Homo sapiens: one gene and its partners. The protein of the gene in region 7 interacts with the protein of the main gene of each other region in a pairwise test. Each region holds a gene or a part of one and is shown on either strand. Other genes may lie near its edges.

The links.
Region 1: the proteins of TFIP11 (region 7) and DES interact in binary tests that used the Homo sapiens proteins (3 or more experiments, as listed by UniProt).
Region 2: the proteins of TFIP11 (region 7) and TSGA10IP interact in binary tests that used the Homo sapiens proteins (3 or more experiments, as listed by UniProt).
Region 3: the proteins of TFIP11 (region 7) and LSM3 interact in binary tests that used the Homo sapiens proteins (3 or more experiments, as listed by UniProt).
Region 4: the proteins of TFIP11 (region 7) and DDX25 interact in binary tests that used the Homo sapiens proteins (3 or more experiments, as listed by UniProt).
Region 5: the proteins of TFIP11 (region 7) and KANSL1 interact in binary tests that used the Homo sapiens proteins (3 or more experiments, as listed by UniProt).
Region 6: the proteins of TFIP11 (region 7) and COQ8A interact in binary tests that used the Homo sapiens proteins (3 or more experiments, as listed by UniProt).

The regions. Positions count from the first base shown.
Region 1 is NC_000002.12:219,424,306-219,427,234, reverse strand, and holds the end of DES (desmin), read right to left. Parts: intron 1,573-2,929; coding exon 1,490-1,572; intron 1,287-1,489; coding exon 1,245-1,286; 3' UTR 683-1,244; coding exon of another isoform or gene 656-682; 3' UTR 501-655; downstream 1-500. UniProt on the Homo sapiens protein: Muscle-specific type III intermediate filament essential for proper muscular structure and function.
Region 2 is NC_000011.10:65,951,980-65,955,479, forward strand, and holds part of TSGA10IP (testis-specific protein 10-interacting protein), read left to right. Parts: intron 1-1,587; coding exon 1,588-1,758; intron 1,759-3,500.
Region 3 is NC_000003.12:14,185,317-14,188,816, forward strand, and holds part of LSM3 (U6 snRNA-associated Sm-like protein LSm3), read left to right. Parts: intron 1-3,500. UniProt on the Homo sapiens protein: Plays a role in pre-mRNA splicing as component of the U4/U6-U5 tri-snRNP complex that is involved in spliceosome assembly, and as component of the precatalytic spliceosome (spliceosome B complex).
Region 4 is NC_000011.10:125,911,008-125,914,507, forward strand, and holds part of DDX25 (ATP-dependent RNA helicase DDX25), read left to right. Parts: intron 1-303; coding exon 304-481; intron 482-3,500. UniProt on the Homo sapiens protein: ATP-dependent RNA helicase. Required for mRNA export and translation regulation during spermatid development.
Region 5 is NC_000017.11:46,186,930-46,190,429, reverse strand, and holds part of KANSL1 (KAT8 regulatory NSL complex subunit 1), read left to right. Parts: intron 1-3,500. UniProt on the Homo sapiens protein: Non-catalytic component of the NSL histone acetyltransferase complex, a multiprotein complex that mediates histone H4 acetylation at 'Lys-5'- and 'Lys-8' (H4K5ac and H4K8ac) at transcription start sites and promotes transcription initiation.
Region 6 is NC_000001.11:226,967,794-226,971,293, forward strand, and holds part of COQ8A (atypical kinase COQ8A, mitochondrial), read left to right. Parts: intron 1-3,500. UniProt on the Homo sapiens protein: Atypical kinase involved in the biosynthesis of coenzyme Q, also named ubiquinone, an essential lipid-soluble electron transporter for aerobic cellular respiration.
Region 7 is NC_000022.11:26,505,974-26,509,473, reverse strand, and holds part of TFIP11 (tuftelin-interacting protein 11), read left to right. Parts: intron 1-2,545; coding exon 2,546-2,699; intron 2,700-3,014; coding exon 3,015-3,171; intron 3,172-3,500. UniProt on the Homo sapiens protein: Involved in pre-mRNA splicing, specifically in spliceosome disassembly during late-stage splicing events. Intron turnover seems to proceed through reactions in two lariat-intron associated complexes termed Intron Large (IL) and Intron Small (IS).

The DNA of each region.
Region 1 (2,929 bases), on a different chromosome or scaffold from region 7:
AGGCTGCAGTAAGCCGTGATCACACTGCTGCACTCCAGCCTGGGTGACACAGCAAGACTCCATCTCAAAAAGAAAAAAAGAGAGAGAGAAAAAAAAGGGGCTGTTGGCATCTTTGAAGAAGGGACTGGGGGAGCCCTACTTCAGAGCCAGTCAGTGGGGAGCAGCTACATCCTTCAAAAGGAATAGCAGGTGGTGTCCCCCAGCCTGGCTGACCTGAAGGTGTAGTAGAGAGCACAAGGGGTGCAGTCCTGGAACTGGGGCCTAACGAGAGGTATTTGTGGTTCCCCAACAAAAGCCCTGTCCAGCCCTCCCTGCCCCATACACTGCATACAGACATCAAGGCCAGGTGGCTCTGGGAACAGAAGTGGGCGCGAGGCCCTGGGGAAAGTCTGGCTGGGTAGAAGGTCAGTATAGTCCATCTCAGGGTGACAGGTTGTATCACAGGGCCCCAGGGGCCCCACAGGAGACCTGGCAGTCAAGACAACAGGGGCCAGCTTGGCTTGTGTGTGAATCTCTTTATTGTTTCTCTCCAGAGCCCCTGCAGCAGGGGAGGGGAGGGCGTGGGGAGGTGGGCGCCCCTCCCACCAGCCTGAGACCGCTCTCTGCCTCTCTCCTCTCCTCTCTTCTCCAGCATCTCACCCACTTTCTCTCCTTCTCAATCTCCTGCTCCCACCTCCAGCACCTTCGGGGATTCCCTCTTGTAGCCCCTGCTTTCTAAGTCCACCCTGGGCTGGGGAAAGGAAAGTAAGAGACCACGGGGACAATTTCAAGCCCCCCAGTCTCCACAGGGGCTAGTCCCCCTGGCTACCTGCCTGGCTTTCTCTCTCCTGGGCTAGGGGCTGGGGAGGTCTGCGGGGCTCAGTCCTGGCCCTGCAGTATCCCAACACCCTGCTCTGGGGCTGTCTCCAGAGCCAAAGGCTAGTGCCTGAGGTCACAGAGGTGGGAGGGACAGGGCCACCGCTCCCGCCTGGGCTCCATCCAGCACAAGAGCCAGGCTCACTCACTGCCAACAGCCAAGGCTCACAGCTGGGGTCCGCAGAGGTGGCCGGGGCATGCCCTGTGACCAGGCAGGGATGGGCTATGTCGCTGTTGGGGACCACGAGGGATGGCCAGTGAGGAGGGGTCAGAGGCTGTGAGGGGAGGACTGAGGCTGGGTGTGGTGTCCTGGGATGGAAGAAGGCTGGCTTCAGGGAGCAGTGAGGACAGGGGTGAGGACGGTCTCTGGTGGCAGAGGGTCTCTGTCTTTAGAGCACTTCATGCTGCTGCTGTGTGGCCTCACTGACGACCTGGGGAGGAAGAGAAGCCCAGTCCAACCATGTGCTAGCCAGAGAATGGAGCCTCAGCCCTGAGCCATCCCCACCCCAGGGCCGCAGGATCTCTCTTGCCCCACTAGCCAGGGACCTAGACCAGCACAGCTGGGTGGAAGACAGTCCCCCCAGACACATCCATAGCCCCCACCAAGGGTAAGGAGCCCAGACAGACCACTTACCTCCCCATCCCGTGTCTCGATGGTCTTGATCATCACCGTCTTCTTGGTATGGACCTCAGAACCCCTTTGCTCAGGGCTGGTTTCTGTAACAGGGTCCATCGCACACTCAGCCTGACCAAGTCCAGGCTGGGCTATACCAGGGGCTGGGAGTCCATCTGGGGCCACATTGGGCAGAGCCCTAGCAGACCCCAACCCCCCTCAAGACAGGCTTGTTACTTCTTCAAGACTTTAACACCTTTCCTTCAGCCCAGCACCCAGCAGGTGGTTCTGCAGTCCCCAGCGCCTGTCCCATAGTTTAGATGGTCTCAGGAGCCAACAGATTTGCTCCATGTGCAGGATGGTGCAGGAGGGTAGGGGACACCTGAGGCCCAGGCTGCACAGCACTGACATTCCCCATCCCTCCTAGTTCCTCTCCACCCCCAGGCCCCAGGAGAGCCCTGCACACATTTGTCTCCTGGGACTCCCCTTCTTCAAGATAGAACCCCAAAGCCCAGTCTCAAGACACTCTTTAGAGGACCTTACAGTACCTATCTCCCTTTAAGATTTCAGGGCCAGGTGCGGTGGCTCACATCTGTAATCCCAGTAGTTTGGGAGACCGAGGCAGGTGGATCATGAGGCCAGGAGTTCCAGACCACCCTGACCAACATGGTGAAACCCCGTCTCTACTAAAAATACAAAAATTAGGGGGGCGTGGTGGCACATGCCTGTAATCCCAGCTACTCAGGAGGCTGAGGCAGGAGAATTGCTTGAACCTGGGAGGCGGAGGTTGCGGTGAGCCGAGATTGCACCACTGCACTCCAGCCTGGGCGACAGAGCGAGACTCCGTTTCAAAAGAAAAAAAAAATTCAGATGAGCAACTTGATGTCTTAAAGTGAGACAGAGCAGGAATAAGGCACTGACTCATTGTGCTGATGCTCAGTCACTTGCCATTCTGTGCCTCAGTTTCCTCACTGAGGACACGGAGTGAAGTGGTACCAACCTTATCATGGCCACAAAGCTATTGATTTGGAAAAGCACTGTGCAATGTGGGTGGAGTTTTTTGTACTATGAAGTTTTAAATGCAAGACTCATACTTGGTGTCTGTATAAACAACTAACTGAAAAGAGAGGCTCTGAGTTGTGTAGGAAAGGTCAAATGGAGGTCCTTGGTATTATGAGTTTGGTGCTTACGAATTTCCTTAGCTAGCAACCAGCCTGTGATGAATGTTGTGACTCGCTGGAGCGCAGCGTGTTTTTTTTCCTGATGGAAATGTACATCGAAGATAGAAAAGGTTTGATCTAGGAAAGGAGAAGCTGCCAAGGACTCCGACTTGCTTTCCTAATGCATCATTATCGTGTGTTTCTCTGCTCTCTGGGGTTGGAAAGCCACCCGATCTGCGTATTACTAATGTCAAAATGGCAGAGTGCCCTAAGAGCTCGTTCTTTTCATTGTTTGGCTTTG
Region 2 (3,500 bases), on a different chromosome or scaffold from region 7:
GCTGGGATTACAGACGTACATCACGAGGTCTGCCTAATTTTTTTGTATTTTTTTAGTAGAGACAGGGTTTCACCATGTTGGCCAGACTAGTCTCGAACTCCAGACCTCAAATGATCTGCCCGCCTTGGCCTCCCAAAGTGCTGGGATTTCAGGCAACAGCCGTCGCGCCTGGCCTTTGCCCATTTTTTGAGTTATTTGCTTTCTTGTTACTGAGTTACTTGAGTTCACATATTTTGGATATTAACCCCTTTTCAGATGTATGGTTTGCAAATATTTTCTCCCATTCTGTATGTCATCTCTGTTGATTGTTGCCATTGCTGTGCAGAAGCTTTTCAGTTTGATGCAACTTCATTTGTCTATTTTAGCTTTTGTTGCCTGTGCTTTCTGGGTCATAGCCAAAAAACCATTGCCCAGACAAGTGTCGTTAAGCTTTCTTTTGTGTGTGTGTGTGTGTGTGGTGTGTGTGTGTGTATGTGTCTGTGTGTGTGTGGCAGAGTCTCAATCTGTCACCCAGGCTGGAATGCAGTGGCTCAATCATGGCTCACTGCAGTCTTGACTTCCTGGGCTCAGGTGATTCTCCCACCTTAACCTCCCGAGTAGCTAGGACTACAGGTCTGGTCCACCATGCCTGGCTAATTTTTTGTATGTTCAGTACAGATGGGGTTTAAGGCTGAAGAATGCCATTGTATATATAGACCACCTTTTATACACAATATATACACAATATATACCATTGTGTATATATACCATGTTGCTCAAGCTGGTCTCAAACTCCTGGGCTCAAGCGATCCACCTGCATCAGCCCCAAAGTGCTGGGGTTACAGGTGTGAGCCACCATGCCTGGCCTTTTTTTTTGGCTCAAGATTGCTTTTGCTGTTTGGAGTATTTTGTGGTTCTATATTAATTTAAAATTGTTTTTTCTATTTCTGTGAAAAATGTCATTGGAATTTTGATAGGCTTGCATTGAATCTGTAAATTGCTTTGGATAATATGGACATTTTAACAATATTAATTCTTCCAAAGCACCCTTCATTTCTTTTTTCTTTCTTTCTTTTTTTTTTTTTTTTTGAGATGGAGTTTTGCTCTTGTTGCCCAGGCTGGAGTACAATGGCGTGGTCTCGGCTCACTACAACCTCTGCTTCCCTGGTTCAAACAATTCTCCCACCTCAGCCTACTGAGTGGCTGGGATTACAGGCATATGCCACCACGCCTGGCTAATTTTGGCATTTTTAGTAGAAACAGGGTTTCACCATGATGACCAAGCTGGTCTCAAACTCCTGACCTCAGGTGATCCGCCTGCCTCCACCTCCCAAAGTGCTGGGATTACAGGCATGAACCACCGTGCCTGGCCTGGAAGCAGGAGACTTCTAGAAAGAGTAGGGAAAGGCCTTGAGCTGGGACCGAGGGCTGAGCCTCCAGGGCAGTCTCTGTCATGGACTTCCATGACAAACCCTACTCCCAGGACACTGGCTCTGGACACTGCAGCCCCTCCCCACAGGCTTCCATATTCCCTTATCCAGCCCCTGGCCCTCCGTGAGGCTCCTGCTGCCCGTGAACCTCTCATTCCCCTTCCCTTTCTCACCCAAGGAGCCTGCTGCAGGCCTGGGAGCGGCAGCGGCAGGAGGAGCGGCAGCAGGCCGAGCTGCGGCGGGCCCGGACACAGCATGTACAGCGGCAGGTGGCCCACTGCCTGGCAGCCTACGCACCCAGAGGGAGCCGGGGCCCTGGGGCGGCCCAGCGCAAGCTGGAGGAGCTGAGGTAGGGAGCCTGGGCTTCGGGAGGCCTGGTTGGGAGAGGGCAGGGAGGCCGTGTCAGGTCTCAGTCTACAGGACCGAGGAGCACCAGCCCTCGCCTTCCCTGGGGCTAACCAGGCCACTTCACCGCGTTTCCAGATAAGGACGCTGAGGCATGGGGAGAAGGGGTCTGTCGAAGGCCACCCAGTTAATAATGACAATCTCTGCAGCTGTTGAATGGTCAAGGTTAAAATATTCTACATGTATGATCACACTTTCAAATCTTCATTTTCTGATTTCCAATGCCAGACATGCTTGTTATAAAATTTCAAAGATTACAGAAATAATGCCTGGAGAAGGTGAACAGCCGTGTGACCCCACTCTGGGAGACAACCATTGTTCACAGTCAGCTGAAGAGTCGCGTTTTGTTCTCTTCCTATATTGTGACCATTTTCCTTTTTTTTTTTTTTTGAGACGGAGTCTCGCTCTGTCGCCCAGGCTGGAGTGCAGTGGCGCGATCTCGGCTCACTGCAATCTCCGCCTCCCAGCTTCACGCCATTCTCCTGCCTCAGTCTCCCGAGTAGCTGAGACTACAGGCGCCCGCCACCACGCCCGGCTAATTTTTTTTTTTTTTTGTATTTTTAGTAGAGACGGGGTTTCACCGTGTTAGCCAGGATAGTCTCGATCTCCTGACCTCGTGATCCACCCGCCTCAGCCTCCCAAAGTGCTGGGATTACAGGTGTGAGACACTGCACCTGGCCGTGACCATTTTCCTAATAAGCAGATTTGTGGGCAAACGTTTTTGGACTCCTAACAGGTCCGTGAAGCAGGGAGTATTGCTGCTGGTGGGCCAGGTCAGGTTCTTCCCTTGGCCGCACAAAAGAAAAAGTTTATTGCAAAGCAAAGGCCACCCTGACCAACATGGTGAAACCTCATCTCTACTAAAAATACAAAAAGTAGCCAGGTGCGGTGGCACATACCTGTAATCCTAGCTATTCGGGAGGCTGAGGCAGGAGAATTGCTTGAACCCGGGAGATGGAGGTTGCAGTGAGCCGAAATTGAGCCACTACACTCCAGCCTGGGCGACAGAGCAAAAACTCCATCTCAAAAAAAAAAAAAAAAGCCCACCCTGAGGACTGCTCAGAGGGAGAGACGGCAGCTTGTGCCTTAAGAGGAATTCCTTTTATGGAAGTTGTTTATACCTAGTCACAAAATACTGGTGAGGTCAGGTATGCAAAGGTGGACCTGTGGTGGGCGCATGCGCTCAGCATCTGCATGCTCCAACACGCATCACATGTAACATTAGCATATACAATCTCTACCTAGGGGTGTGTTTTTTTACCATCAAAACGAGGAAAATGTTGCTATAAGCTAAACCTTGAGCCTAGCTGTGTATGCGGAACCCCGAGAAGTCCTTAGCTCCCTCCAAGGCAGGAATTTGTAGCTAATAGCTTCTTGGGCTTTTGGTGCTGATTGGCTGGAGATCGGGGAAGCTACATTATGAATAAGGGGCTTTTGTTTTTTTTTTCCTGGGCTGTGCTAGGTATGAGGGAACTTGTAGCCATCTGGTATCCCCTAAGACTGCTTATCTTGCAAAAGAGTTAGGTACTCGGCTGTACGCCGTGGCTCACACCTGTAATCCCAACACTTTGGGAAGCCGAGGTAAGTGGATCACCTGAGGTCAGGATTTCGAGACCAGCCTGGCCAACGTAATGAAACCCCGTCTATACTAAAAAATATATATACAAAAATTAGCTGGGCGTAGTG
Region 3 (3,500 bases), on a different chromosome or scaffold from region 7:
ACTCCAGCCTGGGGGACAGAGTAAGACTCTGTCTCAAAACAAAACAAAACAAAACAAAAAAAAACCTATCACGTGTTACTGTAAGTAACATTTTTATGAACAATAACTATTTTCTAAAACAAAATTTTAATGAGGAATGTCTTTGTTTTACATTTTTGCAAATCTCTTTAATGCCCCGCTTAATCGATAACAGCTAGAAGATTCTCATATCTTTTTTCTGCGTTAAATCTATCATGAGTTGTTGTTGTAATTGAAGCAAATCTGACCACACAGATAGGTAGTTGGAAAGGAAGGAGTTTGTTTTGTGAATGTTCTACCTTTGATACTACACCCAAACTGAACAAGTGGTAGTCAGTCAAAGATTATTTGCCATCTGGAATCTGAAACGGTAACAGTAAACTTTTCGTACTCTTGTTAGGTGAAAATTCATTAATCTGCCTTGCACCTCAAATGGATCTCTTACTCATGCATGATTTGGTTACATCAGGCACTGGTTCTTTAGAAAATAGTAGTTCACTGGGCTATGCAGATTCATTTTATTTCTTCAGTGTTTAAAAAAAATCACATTTATTAGTTATCACCAGTGATCTTGTCAGAAAGGTCTTTTTTTTTTTTTAAAGACAGTCTGACTGTGTCACCCAGGCTGGAGTGCAATGTCAGTCTCAGCTCACTGCAGCCTCCGCCTCCCAGGTTCAAGCAATTCTCGTGCCTCAGCCTCCAAAGTAGCTGGGATTACAGGCATGTGCCACCACGCCCAGCTAATTTTTGTGTTTTTAGTAAAGACAGGTTTCACCATGTTGGCCAGGCTGGTCTCGAACTCCTGGCCTCCCAAAGTGCTGGAATTACAGGTGGGAGCCACTATGCCAGGCCGTAGCAGAAAGAAAGGTCTTTAAGATTTGGAAAGACAGTTTCTGACCCTGCCAGGGCATAGTGGTTAAAATGTGGGCTCAGAGTACAAGACTACATGGATTCAAATTTTGACTCCCTTGCTTACCACCTTTTTAATTGAGCCAGCTCACCTAACCTGTCTGTGGATATGTTTCCTTGTCTGTAAAATGGGAGTAATGATAGGACCCACTTCATACAACTGTGGAGGATTCATTGAGGGCTACATGAAAAGCCTTCAGATAGTGACAGGCACGTTGTCACTGTTAAACTGTTAGCCTTCACTGGATTTTGTAGTTCTGCTTTATCCTGGCTTTCCTCCTCTCTCTGACCACACCTGACTCCTTTGCTAGTGTTCTTTCTCCTTCTGAGTGTAAACATTTAGCATTTTTTTCTTTTTTTAAAATTTTTACTTATTTATTTATGTATTTTTGCTGGCTTATTTCTCCAAGAAAGAATAGCATTTTTTAAAATCTGCATTTTTTCCCCTTTAGGAATTTCATTTATTAACTATTGTTTAGTGGTTATTGTTTTCTTAACATGGACACAATCATAAGTACTAAGATGCACTTTTTCTTAAATTTTAGCATCTTAAAAATCTGATTGCATCTTACAGGTGATGTGATAAAAAAAGAATTGTGTCATAGTTTAATTGGCAAAATTTATCCTTTTTCAGCTCAACTAAGCTTACAAATGATACCTTAAATGTGATAAAATATGGAATATGTGGCTTTAATATTCTGCTTTATTCATGTAACATCATTAACATAAGAATTTTACCATGAGAGTAGACTCTTCATAAGCATTTTAATGCTCTTGTCTTGAATTCTGCTTGTGACAGAAATGACTCTTCAACTGTGGTGTCTATTACAGAGAAGGGAACACTGCCACTTACTCCATGTTTGCAGTGAACTAACAGCAGGGTCCACCTGTGTCATCCCTAGTAGTCTGCTCCAAGTGCGGTTCCTCCTGACACTGTTTGAAGGTGCTATGTGTCTGTGCACATGTGCATTTCTCTGGGTGGGGTGTCTGTAACAGAGTCTCAGTAGTTACTGACCTCCATTAAGATTAATTGCTGCCTTGAAAGGCTACTGGGGCTGGTTAGCTCCTGAACGCTGCGTGCTGCGTGCATGTGGCCTCTCTTGCGCCTAGAGTTGCAGCTGAGAACAGTAAGCAAAGTCTATTTAGTTAATGAGTTCTTTTTCACATTGCCATGATGTATTGGGTAAAACATTTAAAATTGAATCTTTGGATGACTGAGAATACTTTAGTGTGTAAATGTGTATTAACTATAGACATAGAAAGCAAAGACAGTGATATTATAGAGAGTGTCTGCATCTGGTTCAGTGCCATGGAGAACAACTACTTCACTCTCCTGTGCGCTCTTGTTACTCCTCTCCAAGATGGGAAACCAGACTAAATGGTTTCTTACCTTGGCCCATTTTACATTTCGCTCTCTCTCTCGTCTATTGAAATAACTAATGAACATCAACGTTTTACCACCAAAACAGTATGGGGGACCCATAAACCATCAGGTTGTTGGGTTTTTTTCCCCCTATAACTTACATAATTGACTTCTAAATAATTAATTTGGCTGCTGACTTATAAATGGGAAGGTGGAAAGCAGTCAGTCTTACTCTTCTGATTCTTGGTCCTCCATAATTGGAGTTTCCATTTTACAGATTGTGAACAGTCTGTGTTATTTGACCCAGACTACTTTTTCGGCTGTCCATCATGTGTACTACCTTCCTTCACCAAACACCTCGTAGTTTGGCTCACCAGACAGTTTCTCTTGGGGACGTTGTGCCCTTTTGTAACTAAGCCCTCTGCTCCCTCTGCTTGCCCGAAGGCCTTCTACAGCATCAGATGGCTCTTCTAGACCTTTCTGTAGATTAGCACTGTAATAATAGAACTGTCTGCAGCAGTGAAAATTTCTATCTATGCTGTCATTACAGGAGCTATGAGCCACATGTGGCTATTTGGCACTTCAAATGGATGCTGGTGTGATTAAGGAACTGCACATTTAATTTTATTTAATTTTAATTTAATGAGCCACCTGTGACTAGTGGCACTCATATTAGAGCAGCTCTAGACCTGCTCCCTCATACATAACTAACTCTTTATGGTCCATGCTGAGACCATATGGTCCATATCACCGTATAGTACTTAACACATATTTCTTTTCTTACTCATTTTAAATTGCTTCCATTTTAATTTAACTTTTTGAATAGATACTAGACTCACACAGTCTTAAAATTACAAAATGCAGAAAGGAACACAGTGCAGTAAAATGTCTTCCACTCCAGCCTCTGTTCATCATCTTTACACCCCACCCCCAGACATAAGCACTATTACTGGTTTCTTGAGAATCTTCTCGTGTCTTTATGCATATGCTAATGAGTGTTAGTTATTCTCCCTTCCCCTGTTTTTTTATCACAGTGCTCTTTCCCTTTCATACATAGCTTCCTTGTGCTTTCGTTTTTAGCTTTATGGTACTTCACTGTGTAGATGTACCATAATTTAACTGTTTTCCTGTTGATGGACAGATAGCCATTTCCAATATTTTGCTAGTAAAACCTATTCTGCTGTAAATAATTTTATCTTTATCTTTTTTT
Region 4 (3,500 bases), on a different chromosome or scaffold from region 7:
TCATACTGTTTGTTCCTTTGACTAGCTGCCCAATATTTCATGATTTATTTAATGTAACCTATTGATGGACATTTTGGTTGTTTTCTGTTTGGGGAAGTGCCATTTTTCACAGTTAAGAAAAAGTCAGAAATTTATCCTAAAAATTCTGCAGAATCAAAAACCACAATGACCCTCGGGGTTTCCACTTGGAAAATTATTACAAACTGTATTTTTGCTTATGAGCTTTATATTGCACTGCCCTGAACTGTGACCTGTTGGAGTTGTTTGCATCTGAAGGAGTGCTTAAAACCCTTTTCTCCCCAGTTCCCAGAGGCACCGACATCACTAAACAGATTATAATTGGCACTCCTGGGACTGTCCTAGATTGGTGTTTTAAACTAAAATTGATTGATTTGACTAAGATTCGTGTGTTTGTCCTGGATGAAGCAGATGTGATGATTGACACTCAAGGATTCTCAGATCATAGTATTCGTATTCAAAGGTAATCTTCAGAGTCTTCCTCTCTTCCTCAGCCTTCTGTCCAGATGGGGAATTTCATTTGTTTACTCCTCCACATTATCTTTATTGCTTAACTCCTCACCACCTTCACCTCTAAAATAAATTTGAGTTTTTACATTATTTTCACCAGTTCAAGGGTCCCTCAGACTGCTATAGTTTTCCAGCTTCTTCAGTTTGTAATCTTGCCTGAGTGCTTTACTTTGCAACACAGCTTACAGATGGACTCTATTAATATATAGTGCATCTGCACCAAATTTGCCAATATGTTCTATATTTTGGCCAAAATTCTAAAGAGGATCTGTTAAAGCCTAGTGAGAATACAATGGATAATTGAGATAGAGTAGAGGACACAGTAATGTGGGATCAGGAGACTGGTAATCTAGTCCTGACTTTCCCCCTAATTTGTAAAAAGCCGTGTCATTTTCCTAGGCCTCTCTATCAGGATCACCTGAGGGATTTAAAACTACAGATTACCGGACGCAGCCTCAGACTTACTGAATGAGAGTTTCTGTAAGTGGGATTTAGGAATCTGTATCACGTATTTTTTAATGAAGTATTACATACTCAATGTTAAATTCAATTAGTATTGAAAGACTTGTAATGAAAAACAGTAACCCCTTGCTCCAACCTGAAGAGAATACTTCTCTTTTCTGATATTAACCTTCATACTTGTAAATAATATTTTCATACTGCTGTTTCCTGATGTATAGTCATTGTCAACTGATTTCCCATTATAGGAAGTGGGAATTGAGTTCTTTGAAAACACCACCCATTCTACCTTTCCTATCCCCCCATTACCTCTCTGTAATTATGTCATGAATTAGGTTACAGTAACTGTCAGTATTGATATCATGTGACAGTGTAAGTATTGTTCACTGCTGAGCCAAACAGCGTATTATTATAATTACAGTTGCCCCTCCGTATCCACAAGGGATTGGTTCCAGGACCCCTTGCACGTGCCAAAATCTGTGGATGTTCAAGTCCCTGATGTAAAATGTTGTAGTATTTGCATGTAACTTATACACATCCTCTTGTGTACTTTAAATCATTTCTAGATTATTTATAATGACAAGAAAAAAGTCCATATACATTCGGTACAAGCACAATTTTTTCCAAATATTTTTGATCCACAGTTGTTTGAATCCACAGATGCAGAGCCCACAGATACAGATGGCACTAATATAAAGGGCTGTTTTTCTTGTAAAGCTTTTTCTTCTAGAAGTAATCATTGCTTTTGCTTTTTTTTTTTCATTTTGTTAGTATCACTGTGTAAGGATCTTTAATTTTCCCTTAGCTATTCTATCGTATGTGTCATATGTCTGTGATATCTCCAAATAGTAAAATAAAATTTAAAAATCCATCCATTTCTCAGCTGGGCACGGTGGCTCACGCCAGTAGTCCCAGCACTTTGGGAGGCCGAGACGGGTGGATCACAAGGCCAGGAGATCGAGACCATCCTGGCTAACACGGTGAAACCCCATCTCTACTAAAAATACAAAAAAATTAGCTGGGCATGGTGGCAGACGCCTGTAGTCCCAGCTACTTGGGAGGCTGAGGCAGGAGAATGGCGTGAACCCGGGAGGCGGAGCTTGCAGTGAGCCGAGATCACGCCACTGCACTACAGCCTGGGTGACAGAGCAAGACTCCATTTCAAAAAAAAAAAAAAAAAACCATCCATTTCTCTTTTTTCCTGCCAATATTCCAAGCTCCCTCTCTCCAGCTTCAGTCTGGTAGATCTGCTGTACAGCTGTCATCATGGGTCTTTCCTTTGCTCACTTAAGTTTTAAATCTCCTATATCTTGGGTCGTTTTTCTTGGAGTACTTCCTCAGTATGCTGGAGTATATTTTCTAATGCCTTCCTGAAAAACAATATAAAAGAGATTCATTTTTCAGCCCTTACATGTCTGAAGATGTCCTTATTGTACCTGTAAATTTGATCTTTTGACTAATAGTTTGCCCGGATAGGAATCCTGTGTCATTCTCTCTCTAAATTCAGAGAAATGTTGAAAACAGAAAAGTTTTTAAAAATAACTTCAATATATAATTAATATCCTCAGCTTCCACTGTTGTTACTGAAAAGTTTAATGTCACCCTGATCTCCAAGCTTTTGTTTATGACCTTTTTTTTTTCTCTCGCGAGAAGCCTTTGGAGTCTTCTTTCTTTATGGTATTCTGAAACTTTTCAGTGACATACTTTGGTTCAGGTCTTTTTTCATTCATCATACTAGACACATACTGCACCCTTTCATTCTCAAAACCTGGGCCTGCCACTTCTGGGAAAATTTCTTCAGTTATCTCTTTCCCCAAAGTGACCAACTTTTTAGAGAGCCCATCTGGGACACAATCATAACAATCCAAAAAAAAAAATGATATAAAATAGAAGAAATAATCATACACAGGGTTATTATTTTGTTGTGTGTTTCCTTCCATTTGTCATTAAAATAACACAGTCATTGAGCATTCCGTTTCTGTCTGTCTCAATCACACTGGTGGTGGTCTCTGATTTTTTTTTATAGAGCTTCCTCTTCTTGCATTACAGATGCAGTATCTTCAGTTGTCTCTCTGAGAACATTAATTCTAGTATTTAAAAATTTTTTCTGTTTTAACATTGTGAATTATCCAAGTTTCCTTTTTGTTTGCTACAGCCTCTTTCACAGCAGAACGTTCCTCTTTATATGTGGTGACACTTGGCTAGCCTTTCATGATCTAGGGTGAGAAGCTACAATTCCAACGGACAGCTCTGTGTGCATGGCTGGGGCTGCCACTTGGGAAGTCCTACTGTGTGACGATTGTCATCTGGAGGTCTTTAGGACTATGTAATGTCTCTGTTCTCTTTTCTGGGGGATAGACCCTTGGTTGCTGACATTCTGGGAGCAAGGCAGGGGAACAGGCTGAGAGGGCCGTCCCATTCGGTATGCATATTTTCACTTGATCTCCTCTTTTCAGCCATATGTTTTGCCTCCACTTTCTACTAAGGCTTGTATCCCCAAATCTGGAATTTCT
Region 5 (3,500 bases), on a different chromosome or scaffold from region 7:
TTGACTTTGGTGCTTTACCAACGTGAGATGTTAAATTTTTGTCTGATTTTCTTTCTTCCTGCCTACACATGTTATTTCTCTGGTTAAACCTGCAGAGCACTCTTTGTTACGTGAGTGTTTCCTGTTGAGGAAAATTCTGGAAGTTAGAAAATGAGTAGGCCTTAGTTCACTTGTGAACTCATATCAAGGTGAGAAGAAAGTGAAGTAACTATACTAAACTTTTTTCTTCACTGTCACTAAGGCTACTCTTCCATCTCTAGTAATGCTACATTGTAACCAGTGTCTCTGCGTCTTCTGTAGAGGATTGAGTTGACCACAGGTTTTAATTGCATTTTAAAGTGAATAAGAAGTTTTAGGTTTGTTCTGTTCGTTATGACCTGATTTGTGTACTCTGTAAACATAGGGGTGTTGTGGTTGTTTGAGAAGGTATTTTAGTATTGAGAGGTTCTGATTAGGCCCCTTTGCGAGTAAAGCTTAGTTACCTTGTTATATCAGGCAAGCAATTTTTTTTTTTTTTTTTTTTGAGGCAGGGTCTCGTTCTGTCGCCCATGCTGGAGTGCAGTGGTGCTATCTCAGCTCATTGCAGTCTCCGCCTCCCAGGTTCAAGCGATTCTCGTGCCTCAGCCGCCTGGGTAGCAGGGACTACAGGCATGTGCCATTGGGACTACAGGCGTGTGCCACCATGCCCAGCTAAGTTTTGTATTTTTAGTAGAGACGGGGGTTTCACCATGTTGGCCAGGCTGGTCTCGAACTCCTGACCTCAAGTGATCCACCTGCCTCGGCCTCCCAGAAGTGCCGGAATTACAGGCATGAACCACTACGCTTAGCCTAGACAAGCAATTTTTAAAATGTGCTATAAAACACCAAACTAATCCACACTGGATTTTCTAAACATAGTAAACGCCATGTTTAAAGAGTAATGCGTATTCCTTTTATGTTTTTTCAGCTTGTGGGGAGATGGGTAGGGGCTATTTTTTTCTTCTTGGTGAGTCCATTAAGACACAGAAATAAGCGACTTTCTTGCTAGATAGATGTATATAGTTTTATTGTCCCTCTCCACCCCCCAACAAAGGACCTCTCCGTTCCATTCCTTGAGTTTAGAGGGGAGGGACTAGGGTAAACTGAATAAGTGGTTGTCTGTTGATTGCCCCAGAGTAAATCTTATTGAGTGGTTTAGAGATTTTGTTTCTTTTTCATTTTAGAGACGAGGTCTCGGGGTCTCGCTGTGATTCCCAGGTTGGCGTGCACAGATGTAATCATTGTGCGCTACAGTTTAGAGTGCCTGAACTCCGGGGCTCAAGTGATCTTCCTGCCTTAGCCTCCTGAGTAGGTTGAGCAACGGGAGCATATAACCTTGCTTGTCTTTTTTTTTTTTTTTTTTTTTTTTTTTTTTTTTTTGAGACAATCTTTGCTCTGTTGCCCAGGCTGGAGTGCAGTGGCGCGATCTTGGCTCACTGCAACCTCCACCCCTAGGGTTCTAGCGATTCTCCTACCTCAGCCTCCTGCGTAGCTGGCATTACAGGTGCCCACCACCACGCCTGGCTAATTTTTTTCTATTTTTAGTATAGATGGGGTTTTGCCATGTTGGCCAGGCTGGTGTTGAACTCCGGACCTCAGGTGATCCACCCACCTCAGCCTCCCAAAGTGCTAGGATTATAAGCGTGAGCCACCGGGCCTGGCCCCTTGCTTGTCTTATTTAGAGTTTTAAAGCAGCTTTCGTTGTACTCTTTCTTCATTTTAAATGTTCCTGCCTTGAGTGATTTGATTAGTCTATGTCTTGGGAAGCGTATTTTACCTTAGTGCCTCTTTACTTACTTACCTTAAGAAAGGAGTACAGGGCAGGTTCTTAAGTAAAATGGCCCCAGACACCTGGCTTGCCTACTGTGTCAGTGCAAAGAACACTTGGATCATGTCTTTTTCCTAAAATTGGACTTCATAACTGTTTCTTGGAAGTCTGTTTTAAGACTTTTTTAGTTCTCATGTTGCTTCTGAAGATGTATGTTTAAATTACAGTTTCTATGCTGATAAGTTGCGTATATACCTCTGGGCATACTAAAAGTTGTGCAGAACAATAGTTTATATGACAAGATAAGTTTCCCTCATCAGTACTTCCCATTCCCTGAAATGTGAGATCAAAACTCAGTTGAACCACACTATGGCTGTAGAAGACAGTATGAATTAGAAAAGACAAATATCCACTGTACTAGAGTTCACCAGCGTTTGAAGGCTATCAGAAGATATAGGAGGTAAGTGATATCCTTGGGTGTCACTTGCAGATTGAGGGGAGGATTGTGGGTCATAGGAGATGACTAGTATGGCAGGGGGTAACTATTATTATTTGTTTCTTTTTTAAGCCATGTGCCTTTTAGGATGTAGAACAAAATACATAGGAGAAAATAAGCCAAAAGGTGTGATTTACCAAAATACTTGGACTCCAAAAAGAGCTGCAATATATATTTTTTTTTATTAAGCATTTTCTTGTCTTTGGTAGAATAAAGGTAAAGCTAAAATAGAGTGCGGAAACTGACTTGACCAAAGTAGAAAACACAGCTCATGTTTATGAATCAAAAACAAATGAGTTTGGGCAGTCTGAAAGAAAAAAATCAAACATTTTATATGAAGATTTTAAACCTTTATGCAAAGAGTCCCTTTAAGGTGGAAGAGACCTTTTAAATAGAGTAGACCTTCCCCATTTAGTAGCACAATGCGGCAAAATAGTTGTTTAATAAATGTTACTTTCTGCAAGCCTTGCTTTTCCAAGATTTTAAGCTGCTTCCACAGTGTTAACATTTGAAAGCCCTCTACCAGGAAATTATTTAGCTGTGTATTTTATTGTTGCTGACTGTGAACTTACCCTTTTTTTTCCTGGCTGTAATTTTTTTAGAATTAAAGTTTCTTTCCAAGATTTTGAGGGTCAGGAAATGCAAAGTGGAGGTAGATTGAGTGCAGTTTTATCTAAATGTTATTTTAAAAACTCTGGTTCTTGTAACCTGAACCAGGAATCCAAAATGAGATCTTACTCTGAATTTTAATTACAGCAGATTCTGCTCTTATTTGGAAAAAGTTGCTTGAGTGACATCAAACTTAATGGAGTCCCTCACCTTTTAATTCCTTTTTAAAAAGGGGAGAGCTTAAGGTTAGACTTGGTTAAATTCAGTTGGAAGGTAAGTATTAGGGAATAAAAAAGAGGAATAACAATTTTGTTGTTAGGATGTTAAACCAAAAATTGCTAAGAACTCATATCTAGACTTTCCTCTTGCTGCTTGTTATTTGGCCTTTGTGACTGTTTGTTAGCACCTCCACCAGAGGGTGTGAAGGGAAAGAGGCTCAAAGCTAAGTACTGTAGCTAGTTTCTGGTTTCTAGTATAGGAGAGACACTTCATAGAAATACCAGCCTGGGCTGGGTGTGGTGGCTCATGCCTGTAATCCCAGCACCTTGGGAGGCCGAGGCGGATCACCTGAGGTCAGGAGTTTGAGACCAGCCTGGCTTAACATGGTGA
Region 6 (3,500 bases), on a different chromosome or scaffold from region 7:
CTGTGGGTGTCTGTGTGCTGGAGGATTGCCCACAGCTATGATTCAGAGATGCTCATGTTGTTGCCCAAGCAATTGACAGATGATGTTTCAGGCTTGGAGATGGCAGGATGGGAGCAAAGAGAAGCCAGGTCAGGAAAGAACGTGCCGTTCTGGCCCTAGTGGGGAATTCTGGGCCTTCTGGCTCACCCAGTTGAACCTTTCAAACTGTAGGTTATGACCCTTTAGTAACTGTGAAATTAATTTAATGCATCAGGATCAGCATATAAAAAACAAGTTAACTGTAATCTCAGCACTTTGGGAGGCCGAGGTGGGAGAATCACCTGAGGTCAGGAGTTTGAGACCAGCCTGGCCAACATGGTGAAACCCCAATTCCTACTAAAAAAATACAAAAATTAGCTAGGTGTGGTGGCATGTGACTGTAATCCCAGCTACTCGGGAGGCTGAGGCACAAGAATTGCTTGAGCCCAGGAGGGAGAGGTTGCAGTGAGCTGAGATTGCGCCACTGCACTCCAGTGGGGGCGACAGAGTGAGACTCTGTCTCAAAAAACAAGTTAAACAGAATGGAATTCAATAGAAAAGATTAGAATTAATATCGTACATCCTTACAATGAACTATACACATGGCAAGATATTTTAGTTTCAGAGACATACATACTATTTAAGTATGTTCTTCACTACAATGTGAAATATATAGCTTACTGGTGGGTCATCATCCAAACAGTTTGTAGTTGCACTGTTGCGCTTTGTTCTCCTAGAAAATACCTCTAGCCTTTCTTCCCTTCATGGAGGAAAGGTGTTTTTCAGGTGCAGACTGACAGACTTTAGGAAGTTTTTACACGGGGTTATGAAGGAAAGGGATTGCTCTAGGTCTCAGGGAGGTAGGGCTGCTGCAGGGACCCAGACGGGTTTTCAGCGAGGTTGGCAGTAGGTATTCAGCTATATAGAAGTGGAAGTCAAGGACTTTCCAATTCCAGGGGCTCATTTTGATGCTGAAATGGGGGCGGGGCATGAGTCCTAAGTCCAATTTGGCTATGGGACATTATGACTGTGATGCTATGGGCAGGATGATCTGTGGATATTAGATTTTCTTAAAGAGTGGTGTGAAAGAAAGGGTCATATATTGGATATGGGGTCAGAACTGAACTTTAGTTCATCATAATAGCTGTCCTTTGATTACAACTGTGCTTCCAGTGTGACCTTGGGCTCTACCGTGGTTTTCTCTTTTGTAAAATAAGGGTCTTGCCGTTGATTCCAAATGGGAATATTTTGGTAAATGTTCCATGTTTACCTGAAAATAATTCATGTTGAGTGCAGTGATCCGTCTATCTAGTCTGGTTTATTATTCATATTGATCAGATTTTTAAGTGATTTTGGTTTGCTTATTCAATAAGCTATCGAGAGAGGCATTAAAAAGTCTGCTATGATTGTGGATTTACCTACTTTTAGTCTATTGACTTGTGCTTTATATGGTTTGAAGCTATGTTATTTGTTGCCTACAGATTCAGAATTCTTTTTTTTTGTTTGAGACAGAGTCTTGCTCTGTCGCCCAGGCTGGAGTGCAGTGGCACAATCTTGGCTCACTGCAACTTCTGCCTCCTGGGTTCAAGTGATTCTCCTGCCTCAGCCTCCCGAGTAGCTGAGACTACACGTGCGTGATAAGTCTCGATCTCCTGACCTCATGATCCGCCCGCCTCGGCCTCCTAAAGTGCTAGGATTACAGGCGTGAGCCACCGCGCCCGGCCAGATTTAGAATTCTTCTTATATCCTCCTAGGGATTGACCCTTCATTCTTATGTTATGCCTCTTTTCATCTCTGTGAAAGTCCTCATTGTCTGATATTACTATAGCTACATTCCAGCTTTGTTTTGGGTAATGTTTGCATGTTACCTTTTTTTTTTCCCCTGTACTTTCAACTTTTAAAATGTCCTTATGTTTAATGCATATCTATGAGCAGCATATATAGTTGGTTTTTTGTGTGTTTTAAGTGTAGACTGATAATCTTACAATGAGAATATTTAGTCCATTTACATTTAAATGCAATTGTGGATGTATTGGAGTTTATATCTACTACCTTAGTTTTTGTTTGTTTACTATTTGACCTGTCTGTTATGTCCCCCTTTTTCTCACCTGTTTTGCCTTCTTTTAAATTAATCAAGGACTTAAAATTATAGTCATGCGTCTCTCTTTTTTTTTGGAGACAGTCTCGCTCGGTCACCCAGGCTGGAGTGCAGCGGCGTGATCTCGGCTCACAGCAACCTCAGGCAATTCCCATGCCTCAGCCACTCGAATAGCTGGAATTACAGGTGTGTGCTGCCATGCCCGGCTAATTTTTGTAGTTTTAGCGGAGACAGGGTTTTGCCATGTTGGCCAGGCTGTTCTTGAACTCCTGGCCTCAAGTGATCCACCTGCCTCAACCTTCCAAAGTGCTGGGATTAAAGGCATGAGCCACCGCACCTGGCCCTCATGTGTGTCTTAACAAGGATTCAGTCCGAGAAATGTGTCGTTAGGCAGTTTCATCATTGTGTGAACATCATAGAGTGTACTTACACAAACCTAGATGGTATAGCCTGCTACATGCCTAGGCTGTATGGCATAGCCTGTTGCTCCTAGGCTACAAACCTTTACAACATGTTACTGTACTGAATACAGTAGATAACTGTAATACAACGGTATTTGTGTACCTAAACATAGAAAAGGTATAGTAAAAATATGATACAATCTATCACTGTCGTATATGCAGTCCGTTGACTGAAATGTTACATGATGCGTGACCGTGCATGTTCTCTCTTTGTTAGCTCTTATGTTTTACATTCCTTTACGGTTCTTTTGGTGATCACTCTTGAGATTACAGCACGCATCTTGACTTATTACAATATAAAAATAAGTGATTATTTTTACTACTTCTCCAATGATGCTAATACCTTAGAACACTTTTTAGATATTAAGATATATTAAACACCACAAGAATTATTTCTTTGTACAGCCCATATGAATTTAGATTTACCCACATATTTGCCCTTTTTTGTGTTTCTTTCTTCCTGCATTTCTATAATTTTATTTGGTATAATTTTCTTTTTCTCTGAGGAACTCTCCTCTCTCTTACAGTGTAGTCTGTTAATCATGAATTCTTTTAGTTTTTATTTATTTTTTATTGATTTATTTTTTGAGATGAAGTTTTGCTCTTGTCACCCAGGCTGGAGTGCAATGGCGTGATCTCGACTCACTGCAACCTCTGCCTCCCGGGTTCAGGTGATTCTCCTGCCTCAGCCTCCTGAGTAGCTGGGATTACAGGTGCATGCCACCACACCCAGCTAATTTTTGTATTTTTAGCAGAGATGGGGTTTTGCCATGTTGGCCAGGCTGATCTCGAACTCCTGACCTCAGGTGATCCACCCACCTCTGCCTCCCAAAGTGCTGGGATTACAGGCATGAGCCACCACACCCGACCTAGTTTTTATTTTTTTGAAAATGTCATTATAGCTGGGCACGGTGGCTCATGCC
Region 7 (3,500 bases):
GAAATAGGCATTAACAACTCAGACGATCAAACTTGTGACTGTGATGCAGGACATGAGGGACATGAGGACATGAGGGAGAACACATTTTAGGGCATTTCATCTATTCTGAGAGGTCAAGGAAGATTTCTGTGGAGAAAAGTGACCCTTAAGCTGATATGACTGACAGTAGAAGGTAACTAGGGTGGTAGAAGAGGTCCCAATATGCAAAGGCCCTTGATGGGAAGCATCACGGTATCCACAAGGATATGAAAGGCTTGGGGGCTGGAGCAGAGAGGGGGAAGGGTAGCATAGTGTGTGTGATAGAGAGGGTGTGATGTGGGGCTGGGTTATGTTTTGAGAAGACCCTTTTGCTGGTGTGCTCAATAGGCATGGAGCCACAGTGGAAGACTGTGAGGAGGCCAAGCCAGTGGTCCCTGCACAGGTAGTGGAGGACTGGTCTAGGATAGTGGTGGGCAATGAGGATTCAGGCTGCACGTCTTCTCCCCAGCACAAGGTTATGTGTGCCCTGGCTGAACCTCACTCAACCAGGGTGTGCCAGGTTGGGGGTTTTTTCCTCCATGGCCTCACCTGTGGCCTCTAGGCTCTATCCTATTGAGAGTGTGCCTTTTTCTTTTTCTTTTTTTTTTTTTTGAGATGAAGTCTTGCTCTGTCGCCAGGCTGGAGTACAGTGGTGCAATCTTGGCTCACTGCAACCTCTGCCTCCTGGATTCAAGTGATTCTCCTGCCTCAGCCTCCCGAGTAGCTGGGACTACAGGCATGTGCCATCACACCCAGCTAATTTTTGTATTTTTAGTAGAGACGGGGTTTCACCATGTTGGCCAGGATCTCTTGACCTTGTCATCCGCCTGCCTCGGCCTCCGAAAGTGCTGGGATTACAGGCGTGAGCCACCACACCCAGCTGAGAATGTGCCTTTTTCAAAGGAGGCTGGGGGAGAAAGAGTATAGAGATTAGTCCAAACTTCTCATCCACAAGGAAGTCTGAAAGTGGATGACAAATAGATCAGGGAACAAGAATTGCATAATCATAAGATAATAATAATAGCTAACATCTCTTGGCTGCTTACTTGTCCTGGCTATTTCATAAACCTGGATTAATTTTCCTTATGAGAAAGGTACCATTATTGTCCCCATTTTACAGATTAAGAGACTGAGGCTAATGGTCATACAACTAGGCAGAGGCTAAGCTAGAATTGGAACCTGGACCTATCTGACTCTAGAGTTTGGGATCTAAATCACTAAGTTATATTACAATTTTAGGAAAAAACTCCCTAAATTCTGTTGTTGCCCTGAGGGTGTTGAATTACTAGGTTGGTCATTTTACAAGGCATCCCTTTATTTGCTGTATTCCCAGGTTTTCTTTTTTTCTTTGAAACACAGTCTCTATTACCCAAGCTGGAGTGTGCAGTGGCGTGACCTTAGCTCACTGCACCCTCTGTCTCCTGGGTTCAAGCGTTTCTCATGCGTCAGCCTCCTGAGTGGCGTGGGATTACAGGCGTGTGCCACCACACTCAGCTAGTTTTTTGTATTTTTATTAGAGATAGGATTTTGCTATGTTGGCCCAGCTGGTCTTGAACTCCTGGCCTCAAGCCTCCCAAAGTGCTGAGATTATGGGCATGAGCCGCTGTACCTGGCTCCAGGGTTTTTTATTGTAATTTTTTCTTTTTTAAACCACACAGTACAAATATATCAATTTTATTTTATACAAAAAAGACCTGAGGTTAATGGCTTAATGTAAGTACTTGAAGCAGTCAGAGTTTAAATCAATATATTTCATTTTATAGAGTTAATTTCTTATTTCTTAGGGGACTTTAGTGTAATTTTCTTTTCTTTTTTTTTTTTTTTTGGAGATAAGGTCTCACTCTTTTGCCCAGGCTGGGGTGCAGTGACATGATTATAGTTCACCGCAGCTTCAACTTCCTGGGCTCAAGCAATCCTCCCATCTCAGCTTCCCATGTAGTTAGGACCACAGGCTTGCACAACCATGCCTGGCTAATTTTTATTTATTTTTTTTTTATAGAGACGAAGTCTCACCATGTTGCCCTGGCTGGAAATTTTCACATTCAAATAAATTTAATGGCTAGGAGCTTTTTCTAAGTTTGATTAATATAATTGTTACATGCTTTACATTCATATAATCTTTCAATGGGTTTTATTTATGATTTTCCATCAAAATTTCTGCTCCTGTTGGATTTTTGTACTTGAAATAGTTTTCAAAACAATTGCTTTTTATGATAAATTAATTTTTTAAAATGTAGGAAAATTGTATTATCACATCATATTTTGAATTTGTAATCAACCCTACATTGATGTGATAACTCTTCAGCCGTAGAGGGATATGTCAGGTAAAATGTTAAATGTGACTACAGGAAGCCAAATCTGGGGTCCTTTGGATTTTTTGACACATTAAAAAATGTGTTACTTTTTTAAAAAACCTCCCATGAGATTCACTCTAAGGAGTCTTCAAGCACGTAGTTTCTGCAAAAGGATCGCTGCAGAGAAAAGAGTTCTTTACCGACCTGGTGGGGCTTTGTTTCTGTGCCTACAGGGCCCGTGACTACTCTGCGCCAGTCAACTTCATCAGCGCAGGGCTCAAGAAAGGGGCAGCGGAGGAGGCAGAGTTGGAAGATTCTGATGACGAAGAGAAACCTGTTAAGCAGGACGACTTTCCTAAGGATTTTGGACCAAGGAAGCTAAAAACGGTAGTCTCTATTGCAGGATTGTGACCCTAGGAATATCCTTCAAAGGTCATTGTGGCCCAAGCATTTTCTAGCCAGGGAGAAACTCATCTGGAATGAATTTCGTGAGTGTCTCCTTTTGGTGGCAGGTTTCTGTGAGTTGTGAAGTGTGTAGTGCAGTCTCTTCCTTCCTGACACGTTATCACACACATTTTTGGTTCATATGACACTTTTCATAGTGCTGTATAACTTAGGCCATTTTCCTGTTGGCCAAGCTTTCTTAGATTTTTCTTCATTTTGTTTTTCCATTAACTAAGCTTTGATTTTTCTTTTTTGCAGGGTGGCAATTTTAAGCCCAGCCAGAAAGGTTTTGCAGGAGGAACCAAATCTTTCATGGACTTCGGCAGCTGGGAAAGACACACAAAAGGAATTGGACAGAAGCTTCTTCAGAAGATGGGCTACGTCCCTGGACGGGGCCTCGGGAAGAATGCACAAGGTATTGCACCTTTGTCGTCTTGCATGATGGAGGAGGGCAGGCATAGGGAAGGAGAGGGGCGTTGGGAGAGGAGGTTTGCTTTTCCCTTTTAAAAGCACTTTATCTCTCCAGCCTGGTTTGCCAGCACAAGACATTTGCGTTCCTAAGCTACCTTGCTTTATCAAAGCTCAAGTTAAATAAGTAATTGTTTCAACAGCAAGGAAAGGGTTAGGGTCTAAAACAGGCTGCAAACAGGTTGAAAACAGGCTTTTTTTCTGGTCCTGACCAGTGCTTCTAAAAACAAAAATGAGGCTGGGTGTGGTGGCTCATACCTGTAATCCCAGCACTTT